2 linked regions of the Homo sapiens genome follow. The protein of the gene in region 1 interacts with the protein of each later gene in a pairwise test. Each region holds a gene or a part of one and is shown in the gene's direction. Other genes may lie near its edges.

What was found. Proteins that work in one complex are often made in the same cells at the same time.
Region 2: the proteins of PTP4A2 (region 1) and CNNM1 interact in binary tests that used the Homo sapiens proteins (3 or more experiments, as listed by UniProt).

What each region holds. Positions count from the first base shown.
Region 1 is NC_000001.11:31,935,341-31,942,531, reverse strand, and holds the start of PTP4A2 (protein tyrosine phosphatase type IVA 2), read left to right. Parts: upstream 1-4,163; 5' UTR 4,164-4,545; intron 4,546-4,713; exon of another isoform or gene 4,714-4,777; intron 4,778-7,191.
Region 2 is NC_000010.11:99,324,651-99,332,365, forward strand, and holds the start of CNNM1 (metal transporter CNNM1), read left to right. Parts: upstream 1-4,705; 5' UTR 4,706-4,737; coding exon 4,738-6,310; intron 6,311-7,715. UniProt on the Homo sapiens protein: Probable metal transporter.

The sequences.
Region 1 (7,191 bases):
GGGGTGAGAGCATCTCTCTGCTTTCCGGGGGGTAAGGGAATGTGGCAGTGGTGTCATAGTCTAGGACCTTTCCCTCTCAGAGGCAGATATTTTTTTCAGCATTTCACAAGGGTTTCCAGCTTATTCTGAGGACACCAGTTATTGACTGAAGTCAGAAACGAATATCATGATTATTTGGGCTTCAGAGGCAGACAAACCTGGGGTGAATCCTGTTTCTGTCATTTCTTCTCTCTGAGCCTCTGGTTCCTTCTTTTTTTTTTTTTTTTTTTGAGACGGAGTCTTACCCTGTCGCCCAGGCTGGAGTGCAGTGGCATGATCTCAGCTCGGCTCACTGCAATCTCCGCCTCCCAGATTCAAGCAATTCTCTTGCCTCAGCCTTCTAAGTAGCTGGGATTACAGGCGCACGCCACCACGCCTGGCTAATTTTTGTATTTTTAGTGGAAACAAGGTTTCACCATGTTGGTCAGGCTGGTCTCAAACTCGTGACCTCGTGATCTGCCTGCCTCGGCCTCCCAAAGTGCTGAGATACAGGCGTGAGCCACTGCAACTGGCCTTTTTTTTTTCTTTTTTCTGAGACAGAGTCTCGATCTGTTGCCCAGGGTGGAGTGCAGTGTTGTGATCTCAGTTCACCACAACCTCCGCCTCCCAGGTTCAAGTGATTTTCCTGCCTCAGCCTCCCAAGTAGCTGGGACTACAGGCATGTGCCACCATGCCCGGCTAATTTTTGTATTTTTAGTAGAGACAGCTTTTCGCTATGTTGGCCAGGCTGGTCTGAAACTCCTGACCTCATGATCTGCCTGCCTTGGCCTCCCAAAGTGTGGGGATTACAGGCGTGAGCCACCGCGCCTGGCCTTTCTCAAGTGTTTTCATACGTTATTATCGATACGTGAAAGAGCCCATGAGGTAGCTGATTATTATTTCCATTTAATAGTTGATAATACTTCCCTTTTTTAATGGGGGTAATAGTACCTTCTTAATAGGGTCATTTTGAATCATAAACTTGATAATAGATTTTATTTTATTATTTATTTATTTTGAGATGGAGTTTTGCTCTTGTTGCCTAGGCTAGAGTGAAGTGGCGCGATCTTGGCTTACTGCAACCTCCGCCTTCTGGGTTCAAGTGATTCTCCTGCCTTAGCCTCCTGAGTACCTGGGCTTATAGATGCCTACCACCACTCTCGGCTAATTTTTGTATTTTTAGTAGAGATAGGGTTTCACCATGTTGGCCAGGCTGGTCTCAAACTCCTGACCTCAGGTGATCCACCCGCCTCGACCTCCCAAAGTGTTGGGATTACAGGCATGAGCCGCTGTGCCGGGCCTTGATAACATTTTAAAACGTTTCAATCAGGACTTGAAAAAGAGTAGATGCTTAATAAAAGGTAACTATGGCTGGGTGCAGTGGTTCATGCCTATAATCCCAACACTTTGGGAGGCCAAAGTGTGAAGGTTGCTTGAGCCCAGGAGTTCAAGACCAGTCTAGGCAACATGGCAAGACCTCCATCTCTACAAAAATAAAAAAATAATTAGCTGGGCATGGTGGCATGGGCCCATGGTCCCACCCACCTACTTGGGAGGCTGAGGTGGGAGGATTGCTTGAGCCTAGGAGGTTGAGGCTGCAGTGAGCCATGTTTGCACTACTGCATTCCCTCTGGGGTGACAAAGTGAGACCCTGTCTTAAAAAAAAAAAAAAAGGCCAGGCGCGGTGGCTCACGCCTGTAATCCCAGCACTTCTGGAGGCCGAGGCGGGCAGATCATGAGGTCAGGAGATCGAGACCATCCTGGCTAACACAGTGAAACCCCACCTCTACTAAAAATACAAAAAATTAGCTGGGCGTGGCGGTGGGCGCCTGTAGTCACAGCTACTCAGGAGGCTGAGGCAGGAGAATGGTGTAAACCCAGGAGGTGGAGCTTGCAGTGAGCTGAGATCCCGCCACTGCACTCCAGCCTGGGTGACAGAGTGAGACTCTGTCTCAAAAAAAAAAAAAGGGGGGGGGCGGTAAAGGTAACTACTATTGGAGCCACTATTCTTATCCTTATGTTGTTAATGTTGTTATTACATTATTTTATTTCAGGGCCAGAAGGAGAGCTAGGTGGAGGGAAGGGTCATTCACTTGGTCAGACAATCTACTAGATGAAAACAAACAAGCAAACAATCTGCTAGACTGCCCCAAATAGATCCATTTAAGCAGGGGAGAATCTGAAAACAGGCAATTACAATTCCATGTTAAGTACTATGGTAGAGTATTGCACAAGGTGTTTTGCAACTTTATCGGAAGAATCAATAACTCACAGACGCAGCAAAAGTTTTGCAGAGGTGGTAGCTCTTTCTTTCAAATCAGTCTATGTTTCCAGGAAGTAGAAAATACTGCTTGCTGGAGGCAGACAGAATGCAAGTGAGCCCAGTCTGTGCTCCTCACCTAAGGGCCTTGCTACTGATCTGCAGCCCCTCCTGCTCCTCAAGGCCTCTCTCAACTCCCACACAGCCCTGCTAGCCAGCCTTGCCCTAGAATACCCCCTCCTGGGCCACCTGGTGGTGAACATCCTGGACTCTGTGCTGTGGCTTGATGCGGCTGAGTCATAAGACCTTTCTTTTTACTGCTAAGCGCTAATGGAAGCCTTCTGGTCAGAAGCAATGCCCCAAGTCTACCTTGTGGGGAAGGTCTAATGACGACAGATCACTGCTTCTCCCCGCAGGGCTGGATGAGCATGGATGTGGTGGCGAGGTGGGGGAGAAGCACCCACGGGAGCATCTTCATTTCTTCCTATATAGGCGCCAGTTCTGGGCAGGCAAGACTTCCCAGGGGTGGACAGAAAGAACAGACCCTCCCCAACCCGCAATTCCCAGGGGGAGACATCTCCCTCCCAAGCCAGCCTCCAATGCCGCACTTTGCCATCTGGTCGTGGCCCAAACCAGCCTCCTAGCTCGCTAGTGACCACATTTTCCAAACCAAAACTCAGGACGCATGATCTGGCAAAGAATTTCTGGCTAGCTTCCAAATGCAAGAGGCAAAAACCTTTCCACCTGAGAATCTCTACGATAATCTGCGTCGTTAAAGGTGACATTAAGTCGGAAAGCTTGAAATTCAGGGTCTCTTCTTTCTCACTTTCTCAACTCAAGCGTTTTCTTTTTCTTTCTTTTTTTTTTTTGAGACGGAGTCTCACTCTGTCGCCCAGGTTGGAGTGCAGTGGCACGATCTCGGCTCACTGCAAACTCCGCCTCCCGGGTTCAAGTGAGTCTCCTGCCTCAACCTCCCGAGTAGCTGGGATTACGGCCCTCCTTCCGGGCGGGCGCCACCATGCCCAGCTAATTTTTGTATTTTTAGCAGACACAGGGTTTCACTATGTTGGCCAGGCTGGTCTCGAACTCCTGACCTTGTGATCTGCCCTCCTCGGCCTCCCAAAGTACTGGGATTACAGGTATGAGCCACCGCGCCTGGCCCTTCTCAAGCGTTTTCATACGTTGTTATCGATACGTGAAAGAGCCCATGAGGTAGCTGATTATTATTTCCATTTAATAGTTGATAATACTTGGAATCACTTGCCCAAGATCCTACATCCTGAAAGTCTGAATTTTGGCTTGTCAGGGACAGTTCTTAGGGTGGGTGTGTGTCTTGTGGGCAGAGCTGGGGGTGGCGTATTAATATCTTCGACGAAGATGCACACGCCATTCATTTGGGGCCTCAGGAAGGGCAGCCGAGAACTGAGCTGGCCAGGTTCCCACTTCTGAGTTGGAAATCCCCAAGCCCAGGACGTGGCGGCCACCCCGTCCCATCAGGATCTGACCCGAGGCCTTAGGGCCAAGTAGCGAGAAAGAACCCTTCGACCTTGCAGGTCACACCTCGGCTGCAGGCCCTCGACCCAGCCCAGGTGCGGATGGGCGGGGCGCAGCGTGGGCGAGCGACTCCCCAGGCCACGTTCTGCCTTCCCTCCCCGATCACATGGACTCGCCTTCCGTAGCCGGGAGTGCGGAGCGGAACGAACCACGAGGAGGAGGAGCGGGGGAGGCGCCCAGGGCAGTGGGTCAGCGCCCCGCGGGGCAGGTGGGCGGGCCCAACTGCCCGCGAGCCGGCCAGCCAGCCAGTCAGCGAACGCGGAGGGCGGGCCGGTGGCCCTGCGCGCCGCGCCCCGCAGCGCCCCCTGAGGGGCGGCGGCGGGAGCTGGTTCCGGCTGCGCGCGCAGCGGTGGTGGTGGCGGCGCGATCGGCCGGGCTGTAACCGTCGTCTGTCCGGGAGCGGCTGGAGCGGCAGCGGCGGCCGGGCACGGCGCGAGGTGACGCCACAGGGCAGCGGCGGCAGCGGAGGCAGCGGCGGCAGCAGGAGACGCAGCGGCGGCCGCAGCAGCAGCAGCAAGACGGACTCGTGGAGACGCGCCGCCGCCGCCGCCGCCGGGCCGGGCCGGGTGTCGCGCGCCGAGGCTGGGGGGGAGTCGTCGCCGCCGCCGCCACCGCTACCGCCGCCGCCGCCGCCGCCGAGGTGACTGAGGAGAGAGGCGCCTCCTCGCTCCCGCCACCGCCGGACTTCAATGCCCAGTCCCCAGCTCGCCAGCGTGAGTGCGCCCCTCCCGGGCGGCCCCCGCGCCGGCGCCGGGGGCCTCGGGGAAGGGGAGGGCGGGAGGCGCCGCAGCCATTAGTGCAGGCCGGAGACACGTCCCCGGAAGGAGGGCCGGGCCGGGCCGGGGCGGGGGAGCGAGGGTGGGTGAGCGAGGGGCGGGCTCGTGTGTGTGGAAGGGAGAGAGCTGTGCGAGCGTGGGGGAGAGTGAGTTGGTGAAGGGAGGGCGTGTGAGTGGGGGACAGGGCTGAGTGTCCGTGCGAGGAGGTGGGGGGAGTGGGAGCGCGTCGGGAGGCAGTGTCGATGTTGGGGGAATGTGGGTGAGGGCAGGGGAGGGTATGGGTGTGTGGGGAGCGTGTGGGCATGAGGGGTGGTGGTAGAATGAGTGAGTAAATGGGGGAGGAGAGAGTTGAGAGTGTGGTAAAGAGCGGGTGAGTGTGGGGGGAGAACATGGTGTGTGTCGGTGAGAAGGTGCGTGGCAGAGGCAGGAGTGTGGTAGGGTGTGCCGGCGTGTGTCCAGTGTGTGAGCAGGCATCCTAGAGGCCCTTCCCCTTGGTCTTTGTGTGTGGCGATAGTGAACCCTGGTGTGTTGGGTTGGGGAGTTCTTTCCGGGAGCATCTTGTCCGTGGGTCTTCAGGTTCAAGTATGAGGAAAGGGGGTATAAGTCTCCTCCAGCGGCACTATGATCTTCTGGCTCTGGGATTTTAATTTTTTTCCCCCAGAAAGGATGTGATGTGTTTTTTTGTTGTTGTTCTATACATTTTTTTCTCCCACGTTTCATGACTTCAAAGTAAATTTTCAAATTTGTCAATGATGCCATCCTATCCTAGTCTGGGGCCCCTGAGAGCTAACGAAAAGAAGTTTGTCTGTTGCCCAAAATCCTACACTCTGGCCTGTAGAGTGTTCAGGAGCATAAACTTTTGTAAAGTACTGCTAGTTTTTCAGGTGAAGAGTATTTTATTGTTAGGTAAATTGAACTGTAGTCTGGTTTATTATTTCCTGGAATTTGTCAAGAAATTAGCAGTGACTAGCAATTCTAGTGTCACTGTAGGCATTCAGCAAATGTTTGTCTGTCCGGAGTCGCCAAACTACATTACACTGCTGAGTTGGAATATGGTACTTGCTGTCATGCTCTGTAAGAGAGAGTAGTTTCAGAGGGAAGTGAGTGAAGTTATGCCTTGCTGAGTGTGCAAAAGGAGATTAAGGATACAGAATGACACATTATCAGGGCTTCAGAATCACTTGCCAGCACACCATTGTATTGGTGAAGATGGTGAGAAGTTGTTTGCTGGTATTCTGATCTTGGCATTTTTAAGTTTCATAATGAATGGACTAATTATTATCATGGACTTTTCCCATTCTTGTGTTGTAAAAGTAGGGATTCTTGAAGAGTAGTACCTTGATAGGGATTTTACACATTGATATAATCTTAAAAATGATGTTATCTTAAAAATAATGTCTCCTAGAAGTTGGTAGTCTTTCACTTGATCTTAGCCAAAAGGCCGAGAAGCGATAGAAGTTGGTAGTCTTTCAGTATAAGCAAAGAGTAGTATGGTCCTTTTGTTTTTTTTTTGTTTGTTTTTGAGATGGAGTCTCGCTCTGTTTGTTGCCCAGGCTTCCCGGGTTCAAATGATCTTCCCGCCTCAGCCTCCCAAGTAGCTGAGAATACAAGTGTGTGCCACCACACCCGGCTAATTTTCATATTTTTAGTAGAGATGGGGTTTCACCTTGTTGGCCAGGCTGGTCTCGAACTCCTGACCTCCAGTGATCCACCTGCCTTGGCCTCCCAAAGTGCTGGGATTAACAGGCGTGAGGGTGGTCCTTTTGATAGTGAACATAATAGAATTACAGGCAAAATCACTGATGTGTAATTAAAAGTTAGAAATTATATTTTTCGGCTGGGCAAGCTGGCTCATACCTGTAATCCTAGCACTTTGGGAGGCTGAGGCAGGAGGATCGCTTGAGCCCAGGAGTTCGAGACCAGCCTGGGTAACATGGTGACTCCATTTCTACAGAAAATACAAAAGTTAGGCGTGGTAGTGCGTGCCTGTAGTTCCAGCTATCCCGGAGGCTGAGGTGAGAGGATCTTGTGAGTCCAGGAAGTCAAGGCTGCAGTGAGCCAGTGAGACCCTCTCTCAAAAAAAATAAGAAGAAAGAAATAGTAAATAGTATTGTTACTATTCAGTGAGGGAAGGAATTGATTAGTATTAATTTCCTCCTGTGCTACAGGTGCTTTTTATATTCATTTAATTCTCACAACTACAAGAAAGGTGGTATCTTCATTTGCATCCATTTAGCTTATTTTGAATCACTTCTATTTGCCAGGCACTAGGGATACAGCGATGAGCTCCCATGGATTTACAGTGGTGAGAAGAAGAGATACAGAAACTCAAAAGGTTAAGTAACTTGTCCCAGGTCATACAGATAATAATTAGTGCTGGATTAAAAATCCAGGTCTTTGACTCTAAAGCCCTTGATTTTTCCAATACGTCATACTACTCTCTCAGTAGCTCCTCTTATATTGAGGTTTCTCATCAACGTGATGGCCTAGCAGCTAGTACTTAGGAGAGCTGTTGAAACTAATGGAGAAGGCTGGAGGCAAGGGGATCATTTAGGAGATGCTGACTGGAGGCTCTTTGGGGCC
Region 2 (7,715 bases), on another chromosome or scaffold:
ATCCCAGCTACTCAGGAAGCTGAGGCACAAAAATCGCTTGAACCCAGAGGCAAAGGTTGCAGTGAGTGGAGATCACGCCACTGCACTGCAGCCTGGGCGATGGAGCAAGACCCTGCCTCAAAAAAAAAAAAAAAAAGCTAACAGATTACATTATTAGGAATATTACTAATATACTGTCATAGTTTTAAAGTACAAAAAAGGAATAGAAGATACAAAATTTAATAATTTTATGTTCTTCCTAATGTATAAATTCTTCCATTTTTATAACATCTAATTTTTGTGGATAGAGTTCCCAGACCCTCTTCCCTAGATGATGGGTCCCATGCACCCTCAGGGCACTTTGAACAGCTCCTTCATGGCAATAATTAATTAATTAGGCAGGTAGGTAATTTCCGGTTTATGTCTGTCTTCCTCAGGAGAATCTAAGCTCCAAGATGACAAAGATGGTGTCAGATATGCCCAATATCTAGCACAAGGCCTGGCACTTTGATGATTAACAAATATTTATGGAATGGATGAACAAGAAATGAAATAAACAAAAGCATTTTAACATGTACATTCTGAAATAGTATAGTCATGATATTAAAAGTAAGTATTATTTCCTCCATCTCTCTGAGAAGCGAGGAAGTGCCCATCTTGTAAGCTAAGAAGACAGTAAACATTCAGATTCTGGGGAGCTATTTTTGGCAGCTCTTCCTTAGGAGAATCACACTGCCTGAACCTGTCCCCAGGAATCCTTTCAGTTACAGCAGAGCTCTGGAAACCCAGTACTTTTCCAGAACCTCCTATTCAGTAAAAGGAAAAGTACTCAGTCTCTCTAGATTATCTTCACACAGTGTACATTAGCCCTTACTCACTGACTCATGAAAGGGTAGGGAGCTTAAAACTGTCATTTCACGAATGAGGAAATGAGCCCAGAAAAGTAGATTGATTTTCCAAGCCTAACATTTGTTAATAATAGAGCTGGTGCAATTGGGAATAGGCTCATTCTTACAGTTCTCTCTCTTTCTCAATACATATGTAATACATATATATTTGATTTATTTAAATGACATTTATGAATGATTTTTATTACATTGGGGAAAAAGCCCTTGATGTGTTAAGTAGCAGGAGCTGACTAGAATTATGTATAATACATATTTAATTATAAAATATGTAACTATATGGAGAGCACGTGTGTGTGTGTGTGTGTGCATGTATTTCTCCATTACTTATCTATGTAGAAAATGTAAAAAGTAGTATAAAAAATGTTAACAGTGTTTATCTCTAGTTGGTGGGTCATGGTGTATTTTTATTTATGTTCTTCTGCATTAAAATTTTTGTTAATAAGCATGTAATACTTTATAACCAGAAATTTCAGTTTTTTAATTCCTGCTCTAATATTTTTTAAACATTTTATTTCCGTCAGCTCTACCAGATAAAGGAAGCATCAAGCTAGGGTCCAAAGAAGTTTTACCAGTCATTTAACCTGATCTGTAAAATGGGTATAATTATACCTACTTCCCAGGGCTCTTGTGTATATGGAATAATAAATAAGAAATTCCTTCATAACTTTAAAGCTTGTTAAAGATGTTACGTGGTATTGTAATGATGATAATGTTCTGTGGTCTAAAAGAGCTGGGAAAGCCCTTAGGATAGCGGGTATCTTTGTGCTGAGGAGTTTAGGTTGGGAAGGGAAAGAAGTCTAAGTGTCAGGAGAGAAGTAAGCGCTTTTTTGCACTTAAGAAAAACAATCAGCTGGGCGGGTGGCTCACGCCTGTAATCCCAGCACTTTGGGAGGCCGAGGCAGGTGGATCACCTGAAGTCAGGAGTTTGAGACCAGCCTGGCCAACATGGTGAAACCCCATCTCTACTAAAAACACAAAAATTTGCCAGGTGTGGTGGCACACTCTTGTAATCCCAGCTACTTGGGAGGCTGAGACAGGAGGATTGCTTGAACCCAGGAGGTGGAGGTTGCAGTGAGCCAAGATCGCGTCACTGCACTCCGGCCTGGGTGACAGAGCATGACTCCGTCTCAATAAAAAAAAAAAAAGAAAGAAAGAAAGGAAGAAAAACAATCATATGGTTGACCCCAGTTCTCTCCTTCCCTTATACTTCGAATAAATGCCTCAATGTTCCCTCATAAGATTAAACCTCCCTTCTGTCTCTTAAGTAGCCCATGCAAAAAGCAGCTTATAGTGGACAGGATCTAGTGTATTCTGAGACAATGGCATGTCACAAATGCCACGGAAAATGAGATTTCACACATAGGGATGATTTTACACTAAACCCAGGTGCCAAGGGTGGTATGTAAAATAACTCTTCCTTTTTAATTTATTAATTATTTTTAGAGACAAGGTTTCATGCTGTTGCCCAGGCTGGAGTGCAGTGATGCGATTATAGCTCACTGCAGCTTCGAATTCCTGGGCTCAAGTGATCCTCTTGCTGCAGCCTCCCAAGTAGATGAAACTACAGGCATGTGTCGCCATGCCTGGCTAATTTTTTTTAATTTTTAATTTTTTAGAGACAGGGCCTCCCTACATTGTTCCGGCTGGTCTCTAACTCCTGGCCTCAAGAGATCCTCCCACTTCAGCCTACCAAGTAGTTAGGATTACTATATTTTAAAATGTAATACAGACTTATGATAAATTTACCCAAGAGAAATAAAAATTTATGTTCTCACAAAAACCATCACACAAATGTTCATAGCCACTTTATTAATAATTGCTAAAAACTGGAAATAACTTAAATATCCTTTATTGAATGGATAAACAAACAGTGACACATCCATATAATGGAATGCTACTCAGCCATACAAAAGGATGAACTACTGAAAATCACAACAACATAGATGAATCGTAAATGCATTATGCTAACTTAGTAAAGGAAGGGAGAACCCAAAAGGCTACAGACTGTATTCTCCATTTATATGATAATCCGGAAAAGAAAACTATAGGGGAGAACAGATCAGTAGTTCCCAGAGGATAAGACGAAGGGAGGGGTTGACTACATACAATAGGACGGTAAGAGAATTTGGGGGGTGGTGGTGATGGAATTACTTTTTATTGTGATGTTTACATGTATATGCATTTGTCAACATTCATAGAACAGTACACCAAAAAGTGAATTTTACTATATAAAGTTTAAAAATAAATGCATAAAAATAATATAGTCGAGTAAATTCAAACAATATAAGGAATTTAATAAGAAAGTCTCCCTCCCAGATCTTGGTGATAATAGATCTGTATTTTGAGTGCAGTGATGGTCACATACATCCATACATGTGATAAAATGATAGAGAACTATATACACACATTACACCAATATCAACTTCCTGCTTTTGATATTGTACTATAATTAAGATGTAACCCGCCAGGCACGGTGGCTCATGCCTGTAATCCCAGCACTTTGCGAGGCCGAGGCAGGCGGATCACCTGAGGTCAGGAGTTCGAGACCAGCCTGGCCAACGTGGTGAAACCCCGTCTCTACCAAAAAAAAAAAAAAAAAAAATTAGCCGGGCGTGATGGCGGGCGCCTGTAATCCCAGCTACTCAGGAGGCTGAGGTAGGAGAATCGCTTGAACCTGGAAAGCGGAGGTTGCAGTCAGCCGAGATCGCGCCATTGCACGTCAGCCTGGGTGACAAGAGCGAAACTCCGTCTCAAAATAAATAAATTAATTAAAAGATGTAAACGGCGGGTCGCGGTGGCTCACGCCTGTAATCCCAGCACCCTGGGAGGCCGAGGCAGATGGATCATTTGAAGTCAGGGATTCGAGACCAGCTTGGCCAACATGGTGAGACCCCATCTCTACTAAAAATATAAAAATTAGCTGGGCGCGGTGGCGCACGCCTGTAATCCCAGCTACTCAGGAGGCTGAGGTAGGAGAATCGCTTGAACCCGGGAGGTGGAGGTTGCAGTGAGCCAAAATTGTGCCACTGCACTCCACCCTGGGCGACAGAGCAAGACTCCATCTCAAAATAAATAAATAAATAAATAAATCTCATATAAGTGTGTGTGTGTGTACAAATTTATACATAAATACTTTTAACACAAATGGTAGCATATTATACTTGCTGTTCTGCACCTTACTTTGTTTCTACAATTACTTTGGAGATTTTTTTCCGTATCACATATACAACAGATCCACCGCATTATTTTTTATTGCCGCATAGTATTCCATTGCACAGTGGTTTCACTTATTTCAACAGTTTCTTATTGATGGACATTCGGATCTTAACTAAGAATTGAACTTAAATAATCCAGAAATGTTTACAATAATGAAAGGTCGGCTGGAGTTGAGGCTAAAAGTTTTCACATATTCAAGACTTGACTCCAGAATATTCTTTTGACCAGAAGGGGGAATGCAAGTGGCAGGAGAAGCGAAAAGCTGGGAAATTTCCCGGGCCAATGGGGAAGCAGTGGAGCCGGCAGGGAATTACTGCCGGGTAGGAGTTCGCAGAGGAGCACCTTACTTTTGGAGTAGGAGGCCATGCTGCAAACCCAGACTTTTCAGGCTGCATCTCAGATATACCGAAGTGTGTACCCGCTACGCACAGTGCGGTGATGCCTGGCCACCTCCAGCCTCCAGCGGGGACCTCCTGCCCAGGTGGAGTCTGAATGCCCACCGCCACCAGCCCACGCGCGCAGTGGGCGTACACGTGGTGACCTGCCTGCGGCTGGGTTCCCAGCTCCGGCTCCTCCTCCCTCCAGCTCTCGCTCGGCTTCCTGCAGTATCACGTGCAGCTGCGCTGGGTGCAGGATGGCGGCGGCCGCGGCGGCGGCAGCAGCGGTGGGTGTCAGGCTCCGGGACTGCTGCAGCCGAGGCGCTGTGCTCCTGCTCTTCTTTTCCCTGTCTCCTCGGCCCCCGGCCGCCGCCGCCTGGCTGCTGGGCCTGCGGCCCGAGGACACTGCTGGAGGCCGCGTGTCCCTGGAGGGGGGCACCCTGCGCGCCGCCGAAGGCACCAGCTTCCTCCTGCGTGTCTATTTCCAGCCAGGACCGCCGGCCACCGCCGCACCGGTGCCCTCACCGACCCTCAACTCGGGGGAGAATGGCACCGGCGACTGGGCTCCGCGGCTCGTGTTCATCGAGGAGCCCCCGGGCGGTGGCGGCGTGGCCCCCAGCGCGGTCCCCACTCGCCCCCCGGGACCGCAGCGCTGCAGGGAGCAGAGCGACTGGGCATCGGACGTGGAAGTCCTGGGGCCCTTGCGTCCCGGGGGCGTGGCAGGCTCGGCCCTGGTCCAGGTGCGAGTGCGGGAGCTGCGCAAGGGCGAAGCGGAGCGGGGCGGCGCGGGCGGTGGCGGGAAGCTCTTTTCACTCTGCGCCTGGGATGGGCGCGCGTGGCACCACCACGGCGCCGCCGGCGGCTTCCTGCTGCGCGTTCGCCCGCGGTTGTACGGCCCAGGCGGGGACCTGCTGCCCCCTGCGTGGCTGCGGGCGCTCGGGGCGCTCCTGCTGCTAGCCTTGTCGGCCCTGTTCAGCGGCCTGCGCCTGAGCCTGCTGTCGCTGGACCCGGTGGAGTTACGGGTGCTGCGGAACAGCGGCTCGGCCGCCGAGCAGGAGCAGGCGCGCCGCGTGCAGGCCGTTCGCGGCAGGGGGACCCATCTGCTCTGCACCCTACTCCTGGGCCAAGCCGGAGCCAACGCGGCCCTGGCTGGCTGGCTGTACACCTCGCTGCCGCCGGGCTTCGGGGGCACCGGGGAAGACTACAGCGAAGAGGGGATCCACTTCCCGTGGCTGCCGGCGCTCGTGTGCACCGGCGCGGTATTCCTGGGCGCCGAAATCTGCCCCTACTCAGTGTGTTCGCGGCACGGGCTGGCCATCGCCTCGCACAGCGTGTGCCTGACCCGGCTTCTGATGGCAGCCGCCTTCCCCGTGTGCTACCCGCTGGGCCGCCTGCTGGACTGGGCGCTGCGCCAGGAGATAAGCACCTTCTACACGCGGGAGAAGTTGCTGGAGACGTTGCGGGCCGCAGACCCCTACAGTGACCTGGTGAAGGAGGAGCTCAACATCATACAGGGTGCCCTGGAGCTGCGCACCAAAGTTGTGGAGGAGGTGCTGACCCCCCTGGGAGACTGCTTCATGCTGCGCTCAGACGCGGTGCTCGACTTCGCCACTGTCTCCGAGATCCTGCGCAGCGGCTACACTCGCATCCCAGTGTACGAGGGTGACCAGCGGCACAACATTGTGGACATTTTATTTGTCAAGGACTTGGCCTTCGTGGACCCCGACGACTGCACCCCGCTCCTCACTGTCACCCGCTTCTACAACCGGCCCCTGCATTGTGTTTTCAATGACACCCGACTGGACACGGTTCTGGAGGAGTTTAAGAAGGGTGAGCAGTAGTCTATCTTCTCCCCCAACTCCTATCCCCTTCAAAGGTATTATCCTTTCCTAACCACGTGAGGCTCTAGGTACCCAAAGCAATTTCTCTCCTATGGTACTAAAAACCCAAGGAAGACTCTACCTCTTGGCTCCCTGGCTATTTTCATCTCACTTCTGCCTCACTTCTTGCTCCTGATTGAGCCCCAGGCCTCTTTCCTCTCTACTTGATTCACAAGATGCACCATATTCCTTATTTGTTCCATTCTACCAGGTTTTTCCAAGGCCTACCAAATGTCAGATACTGTGTAGGTGGGAGATAGCCCTTGAAGGTCATTGCATAGCTCCCCACCTATTACAGGAGACACCTCTGCAGGTTCCCATACAAGCAGCCTTTGCTTTAAACTCCTCCCAGGGCCGAAAGCTCACTATTTACAGAGCAAACTAATTCCATTGCTGGACAGCTCCAGTGGCTGACAATGTTTCCTCATATAGAGCAGAATTTGTGTCTCCAAATCCTTCTACCTCTTCTGCCTTTTGAATCATGTAGACTAAACCCAGACACCTTAGACGTTCTTCCCCATACTTAATTTCCCATCAGGTATTGATTGCACACATATCAAGTACTCAGGTCCAGGGCCGGGCGCGGCGGCTCATGCTTCTAATCCCAGCACTTTGGGAAGCTGAGGCGGGAGGATTACTCGAGCCCAGGAGTTCAAAGCTGCAATGAGCTGTAATCCCACCACTGTACAAAAGAGCAAGACCCTGTCTTTGCCCGGGGGGGAGGGAAGTACTCAGGTTGGGGGTTAAAAGTTGACTAAGGCAGTAGGATCCTTGTAAGTCTGGGAACTGTGGTCCTGTGAAATAGGATAGATCTGGACCTGAAGAAATATTCTGGGTAGAGGAGATCCTAGAAAACTTGCATACCCAAATGAGTGGGGTTTCCTTCAGCGCAGTCACCATCTTCCAACTCTCCTCCCCAAACTCAAGCTTGATGTCATGCTTATAACATGTTTACTTCATGTCTGAGTTTGTCTTCAGAAAGTGCCTTCTGGTGACTACAAATTCACTCAAGAAAAATCAGCCTGGATACATTAGAGTCACCCCTCTTGGCATTACACAGTTTGACCGCCCCCCTAGTTCACCAGATTTGGCCCAGAACCCTTGATTGTTTTTTAAAATCAAATCTACTTTCAAGAGTCAACACTGAGAGCATTCAAAAGACTATCTCACAAACCCTGAAAGCAACACCAGACATCATAATTTGAAAACAGGGACATAATTAGAATAAGTGTAGAACTTCCCAGAATGACTCCTTTGAAGGAGGCATTCATCTGATATGAGTTGGAATGTTTATTAAAAACAAAAACCAAAAAAATCAATCCCTTGACTTCAGATTCAGCCTTCAGATATAGCTT